Homo sapiens: one gene and its partner. The protein of the gene in region 2 interacts with the protein of the main gene of each other region in a pairwise test. Each region holds a gene or a part of one and is shown on either strand. Other genes may lie near its edges.

Region 1 (4,255 bases), on a different chromosome or scaffold from region 2:
AACTCGTGCATTCTCAGTAGAGGCAATATTGCCCCCAAGATAAAACTTGGCTCTTGGAGGGAGAAAAATTTCATACTCATTTTATGTATAAAGCACAGATATACATACACTGTATAAATAGATATATGGTATGTTTGTAGCATTAAAATTTTATGAGGGAGTGTTAGGAAAAAAAGTCTCAAAAGACTCCTTGGGGCAAGTGATAATGAAAAAAAAGAAGGGGTTCCCTAACACCATTCTAGCTCAGTGTTTTAATTTCTATTTATGCCAATTCCTTAGAAAGAATGATCTTTATGGCTCTTTTAAGCTGAATCAAAGAGCTAAGCAACAGTTGAAACACAGGGAAAGCATCTGGAAGTTGCCAAAAAGCTGAGGCTATGAGAGACTTAGGGCTCATGTCAGCCCCTCGCTTATGACTGCTACCCACATCCAAAGTGAAGATCAAGACCTCAGCCAAGACCACTGCCAATGAAGCTCCGCAATCCCCAAGCAGAAGGCGCTTGGGTGAGGGGTCTTCCTGACTCAAAAGGACTTGAAGCTATGTTGCCAGGCCACTTCACACTGGTTTGAGGCCATGTCAACTATTGAATCAAAGAATGTGGTTGGCTGATGCCTTCCAAGTCACTCACAGACACATACATTTGGACAAATTTTTCTCTTCTCTCTTCTTGAATATCCTTTTTCTTGACTATCTCTGGCCTTCCTTCTCACCCTGGCCTCTCAGATCCCAGTTGTCAGGAGAACATTGCACATCTTGATTGCTGGCCCCTGCATATCCATGATGAGAAACTAGCAAACAGGTTGCTGATCCAAAATGTAGAGATCATTGCTACCGCATATGGCCAGTTAAATGGAATTTTTTTTTTTAAACTAAAAAGCGAAAAAGGAGTGGCTGATTCCTGTAATCCCAGTGCTTTAGGAAGCTGAGGTGGGAGGATTGCTTGAGGCCAGTAGTTCAAGATGAGCCTGGGCAATATAGCAAGACCCCTATCTCCCCAAAAATTAAAATTAGTCAGTCATGGTGGCTTGCACCTCTAGTCTCAGCTACTTGGGAGACTAAGGCAGGAGGATCACTTGAGCCCAGGAGTTCAAGGTTACGGTGAGCTATGATTGCACCACTGAACACCAGTCTGGGTGACAGAGTGAGACCCTGTTTCTTTAAAAAAATCTCTTTTTTAAAAACCAACAAATACATTTTTGTATTTTTAAAAAAACTAAAAATCTTTTTTAAAAAGAAAATGACTTCATTTTTTTTCTTAATCTTTTTTTGGCACATCTTCTTGGCCTTCGGTCTTGGGAAATGACTAAGAATCATTTTCTGCTTCCTACTTCTATCAAAAAACCCCACTTGAACTTAGTACAGTTGGGTGAGGGAGATAACTCGTGCTCACAGGAAGCCACGCACCCTTGAAAGGCACCGGGTCCTTCTTAGCATCGTGCTTCCTGAGCAAGCCTGGCATTGCCTCACAGACCTTCCTCAGAGCCGCTTTCAGAAAAGCAAGGTAAGCAGGGACGGGGACATTCCCAGGGTCTTGGGTCGCACACTGCTTTCTGGACCTGGCTGAGATGCTCAGGCCCCTCACGAGTCTAGGGCTTACACTTGGCACCTACCTTGCAGCCCACACACCTTCTACCTGTCCCCACACCCTCTGAGCCCTCATCTGATGGGCACTAATTTATGCAGGACTCTCTTCCTGCACACATCTGGCCTGAGTCCACATGCCCCAAATAAATAGATCATTTTCATAAAAAATATACACTTGTCTGCTTCTTGCTTCTAGCAAGACTCCCAGGCAAGAAATACCACACACGCAAGGCCTACAGAATAATTCCAGACACTTACCAGCTGTGTCTCCTGGCTTTTTGTTCTCCTGATAATTTCCTAACTCCTCAGCCTTGTTTATGCCTTTCATTTTCACTGGTAAAATGGTGGAGAAAGACTAGAATTGTTAGTCATTCAACAAACTTTTTTGGAGACTCTGTGATGTAACAGGTGTTCAGTATCTATTTGCATGAGTAAACCAAAATCTTTTTTCTTTCTTTTTTTCTTTTTCTTTTCTTTCCTTTTTATTTTTTATTTTTTTTGAGACAGGATTTCACTCTGCTGCCCAGGTTGAAGTGCAATGGTGCCATCATAGCTCACTGCGCCTTGAACTCCTGGGCTCAAGGGATCCTCCTGCCTCAGCCTCCTGAGTAGCTGGTACTATCAGCACGTACCACCACACCCAGCTAACTTTTAAAACAATTTTTTGTAGAGACAGGGTCTCCTTATGTTGCTCACGCTGGCATGGAGCTCCTTGGCTCAAGTGATCCTCCCTCCTCGGCCTCCCGACGTGCTGGGATTATAGGCGTGGGCCACTGCACACCTGGCTTCAAAAGCCCTTTCTTGAGAAACACAGTTTGGGCATTGGGTGTGTGGTGGTGGGGGTGTGGGGAGAGATCGAATGTGAATTTACTGACGAATGTGAAAAGGATTTTAACAAGGAATGTGAGGGTCCCACAAAAGCCTCAAGAAGGAAGCAAGGGAGTGGCCTTGAGTCGGAAAGCCCTTCAGCCCTGAATTGCTCTGATACACATGTCAGCATGTGATTAATTTTAAGAAGATTTCAACCTCTTTATCTGCCAATTTAGATAGGAAGTGAAGGTGGTTGGGGAGGTAGAGGTTTTATTTCTGGCTGTGATGTGTGTTTTCTAGATCCATCAGGTGAATTCCCACTCTAATAGGATTCTGTGCGTAGAATTGATTTTTACGTGCAGTTTGATGATGATCATGATCATATAAAATACACCCAATTGAGAATTGTTCAACTGATTTTGTCATCCCTGAAAGTGATTTCAGTAACCCCAGACTATGAAATATCTTTTTGAAACACATCCTCAAAGAACACCTGCTTGAAAGGGGGTTTTACGATCCTCACTTACAAATGAGAGAACTGAAGCTCCTGGCAGAGAGGTAAGAAAATTAGTGAGTGCCCAAGCTGGAATCTGAAACAAATCTTTCTGCCTCCAAAGCCCAAAATTATTTCGTCTGGCTGCAGGGCCCTGTGAGTAATCGAGCCCTTCATCTTGGGAAAGGCATATACAGACCTGGAGCAAAACAGTACGCAGCCATGCTCTGCATTTAGCAATACTTTGGTTTATTTTTGTTCTCACAGAAATCTCCTTTGCTCTTCCCCTCATTAGCTGCTTCTGGTTGGGCCCAGACCTGCCTTGAGGAGCCTGTAGAGTTAAAAAATGAACCCCACGGATATAGCAGACACCACCCTCGATGAAAGCATATACAGCAATTACTATCTGTATGAAAGTATCCCCAAGCCTTGCACCAAAGAAGGCATCAAGGCATTTGGGGAGCTCTTCCTGCCCCCACTGTATTCCTTGGTTTTTGTATTTGGTCTGCTTGGAAATTCTGTGGTGGTTCTGGTCCTGTTCAAATACAAGCGGCTCAGGTCCATGACTGATGTGTACCTGCTCAACCTTGCCATCTCGGATCTGCTCTTCGTGTTTTCCCTCCCTTTTTGGGGCTACTATGCAGCAGACCAGTGGGTTTTTGGGCTAGGTCTGTGCAAGATGATTTCCTGGATGTACTTGGTGGGCTTTTACAGTGGCATATTCTTTGTCATGCTCATGAGCATTGATAGATACCTGGCAATTGTGCACGCGGTGTTTTCCTTGAGGGCAAGGACCTTGACTTATGGGGTCATCACCAGTTTGGCTACATGGTCAGTGGCTGTGTTCGCCTCCCTTCCTGGCTTTCTGTTCAGCACTTGTTATACTGAGCGCAACCATACCTACTGCAAAACCAAGTACTCTCTCAACTCCACGACGTGGAAGGTTCTCAGCTCCCTGGAAATCAACATTCTCGGATTGGTGATCCCCTTAGGGATCATGCTGTTTTGCTACTCCATGATCATCAGGACCTTGCAGCATTGTAAAAATGAGAAGAAGAACAAGGCGGTGAAGATGATCTTTGCCGTGGTGGTCCTCTTCCTTGGGTTCTGGACACCTTACAACATAGTGCTCTTCCTAGAGACCCTGGTGGAGCTAGAAGTCCTTCAGGACTGCACCTTTGAAAGATACTTGGACTATGCCATCCAGGCCACAGAAACTCTGGCTTTTGTTCACTGCTGCCTTAATCCCATCATCTACTTTTTTCTGGGGGAGAAATTTCGCAAGTACATCCTACAGCTCTTCAAAACCTGCAGGGGCCTTTTTGTGCTCTGCCAATACTGTGGGCTCCTCCAAATTTACTCTGCTG
Region 2 (3,500 bases):
TGGAGGTTGCCGAGAACTGAGATAGCACCACTGCACTCCAGCCGGGGCCACAGAGCTAGACTCTGTCTCAAAAAACAAAAATATAAACAAACAAACAAACAAACAAACAAAACCCCCACAATGCATAAAAGAAGAAATTAACAAATTGGGAAAAATTAAAACTTCTGATTTGGCCAGGCGTGGTGGCTCACGCCTGTAATTCTAGCACTTTGGGAGGCCAAGGCAGGCAGATCACCTGAGGTCAAGAGTTTGAGACCAGCCTGGCCAACATGGTGAAACCCCGTCTCTACTAAAAATACAAAAAATTAGCTGGGTGTGGTGGCACATGCCTGTACTCCCAGCTACCCAGGAGGCTGAGGCAGGAGAATCACCGGAACCTGGGAGGCGGAGGCTGCAGTGAACCAAGATCGTGCCACTGCACTCTAGCCAGGGCGACAGAGTGAAACTCTGTCTCAAAAAGAAAAACTAAATAAAGCTTCTGGTTTTCAAAAGAGAAGCCACAGACTGTGAGAAAATATTTGCAAATCATGAATCTAATAAAGGATGTTGTTTCAGGGTCTAATATCCAGCATCAATAAGGAACTTAAACAAACTTACAAGAACAAAACAACCCCCATTAAAAAGTGAATATAAAAAGGACATGAACAGACACTTTTCAAAAGACAAGCATGTGGCCAAGAAGCATATGAAAAAAAGCTCAACATTACTGATAATTAAAGAAATGCAAATCAAAACCACAATGAAATACCATCTGACACAGTCAGAATGGCTATTATTAAAAAGTCAAAAAATAACAGATGCTGGTGAAGTTGCAGAGAAAAAGGAACATTTATACACTGTTGGTGGGAGTGTAAATTAGTTCAACCATGTGGGAGACAGTGTGGTGATTCCTTAAAGACCAAAAAACAGAAGCAGCATTTGACCCAGCAATCTCATTACTGGGTATATATACCCAAAGGAATATAAACCATTGTATCATAAAGACACATGCATGTGTATGTTTACTGCAGCACAACTCACAATAGCAAAGACATGGAATCAACTTAAATGCCCATCAGTGGTAGACTGGATAAAGAAAATGTGGTACGTATACACCATGGAATACTATGCAGCCATGTTCCTTTGCAAGAACATGGATGCAGCTGGAAGCCATTATCCTTAGCAAACTAATGCAGGAACAGGAAACCAAATACCGCATGTTCTCACTTATAAGTGGGAGCTAAATGATGAGAACACATGGACACATACAGGGGAACAACAGACACTGGGTCCTATCAGAGGGTGGAGGGAGGGAGAAGGGAGAGGATCAGGAAAAATAACTAATAGGTACTAGGCTTAATACCTGGGTGATGAAATAATATGTACAACAAACCCCATGACACACGTTTACCTATATAACAAACCTGTACAGGTACCACTTAATTTAAAAGTTTAAAAGAAAAAAAAAAAAGATGTTTCCAGAATATATAAGAAAACCACCTGAATTTTTTTAAATTGGCAAAAGATTTGATCAGGCCTCACCAAAGAAGATATACAAATAGCAAACATGCACATGGAAAGATCATTAGTCACTAGGGAAATGTGAATTAAAATTACAATGAAAAACTACTACACATCTATTAGAATGGCTAAAATTAAGACTAACCATATCAAGTCTATTACAATGTGGAACAAGAACAACACTCACGCTGCTGGTGGAAATGTAAAATGCTACAATCACTTGGAAAAAAAATTTGGCACTTCCTTAAAAAGTTAAATGTACACCCACCTTATGATCTAGCCATTCCATTCCTAGATATTTGCCCAAGAGAAAGGAAGGCATGTGCCCATACAAAGACTGTTCACAAATGTTCCATTTTATTTGTAATTGCCCCAAACTGGAGCCAGCCAAAATGTCCATCAGTAGGTGAATGGATAAACCAGCTGTGATACATCCACACAATATGTGTGGGAATATGACTCAGCAGTGAAAGAGAATGAACTATTGACACACCTTTCAACATGGATGAATCTCCAAATAAAGATGTTGAGTGAAAGAGGCTAGACAAACAAAAAGTACTGTATGATTCCATTTATATAAACTCTAGAATCAAACTAATTTATAGTGGCAGAAAGGTCATTGTTTGCCTAAGGCTGTGGGGGGCGGGTAGGGGAAGAGGCAGGGCTAGGGGCTAGAGGAAGGGATTACCAAGGAGCATGAGGAGATTTTGGGGTGTGATGGGTATGTTTGTTGTCTTGATTGTGGTAAGAGTTTTACCACACTTTAAATACGTCAATAAAGCTATTAAAAAAAATGGCACAGAGAGATTAAGTAACTTGGCCAAGGTCTCACAATAATAACAAAATGCCATCAAGTAGACATACCATATTTAATGACTACCCTATTATTGGATATTGTGTTGTTGTCAATTAGAAATAAAGCTGTGATATAATCACTCTGTGTTGGGTATCTTTATACTGAAGCCTATTTCCTTTTTCCTTAAGCCAGGTTTCGAGAAGTAAAATTACTAGATGGGCCAAAAAGTATGTACATTTCGAAGGCTATTAAACAAGAGGGTTTCCAGGAAGCTTGTAACAAGACCCATGTCTCTCAGTCACTTCTGTAGCCCATTTTTTACCAGCACACTTCCTTATCAGGAAGGGGTAAGTAGATTCCTTTTTGCCTCTCATTTTTGCTCACGAATTCCCCATTCCTGACTTCCTGTGGAAACGCAAAGGGTTCCCCTGACCTATTATGACCCATCTCTCCCCTGGTGGCTGTGAGGCTTGAGGACAGCAATGGCAGGGAGTATCTTCTATGACTGTGGGCATTGGTCCTGTCCACTCTGCAATGCCCTTGGCTAAAATCATCTCCCTATGAGTCACTTGCACCAGGGGCAGTGCCCCACCTGCTCCCAGAGCCCGGAAAAGTGCTACTCTCACCTGTTTCTTGGTGTCCACTTCCAGAATGTCCATCAGGTTGATCATGATGTTTTTGTGTGTCTTCTTGTACTTCCCGACACGTAGTGAGACAGTGAGCCAGCCAGGGCGCCCCGTGCACATGAAGGTCTTGCTACCCTGCTCCTTCCATTCCCGCACCTGCAACCACAGGACAGAGGGTGAGCTGGCCCCACTGGGAATCCCCAGAGCAGCCTGCAGCCCTGCTTTCTTCAAGGGCGAGCTGGGAATGATGCCTCCATCAGGCACTGGAGAAACAGAACAATGAAAAGGCCTGCTGGCCCTACCCTCTGGCACCTCCCTGGCCAGCAAGGCTGACAGAAAAGCCAACATATTGCTACACCACAAGGCAGAATGATGAAAGAGCTAGAAGAGAGGATCGAAGTGTTCTGAAAACATTAACTCTAGCTGGGAAGTTCAGAAAAGGTTTTGTAATGGTGATAATAGCAAGTATAAAAATGAGGACCATTTACTGGGTATTCCCAACACACTAGGCATCTACTGCACACTGTCTTGTGTAATTCCTACAACAGTCCCAGGAAGTTACGATGACACCCTTTTTT

The links. The genes of interacting proteins can lie anywhere in the genome.
Region 1: the proteins of DHCR24 (region 2) and CCR4 interact in a two-hybrid assay, tested with the Homo sapiens proteins (one large-scale study listed by BioGRID and IntAct).

The regions. Positions count from the first base shown.
Region 1 is NC_000003.12:32,950,189-32,954,443, forward strand, and holds the start of CCR4 (C-C chemokine receptor type 4), read left to right. Parts: upstream 1-1,455; 5' UTR 1,456-1,502; intron 1,503-3,155; exon of another isoform or gene 3,156-3,183; 5' UTR 3,184-3,234; coding exon 3,235-4,255. UniProt on the Homo sapiens protein: High affinity receptor for the C-C type chemokines CCL17/TARC, CCL22/MDC and CKLF isoform 1/CKLF1. The activity of this receptor is mediated by G(i) proteins which activate a phosphatidylinositol-calcium second messenger system.
Region 2 is NC_000001.11:54,880,696-54,884,195, forward strand, and holds part of DHCR24 (delta(24)-sterol reductase precursor), read right to left. Parts: intron 3,079-3,500; coding exon 2,923-3,078; intron 1-2,922. UniProt on the Homo sapiens protein: Catalyzes the reduction of the delta-24 double bond of sterol intermediates during cholesterol biosynthesis.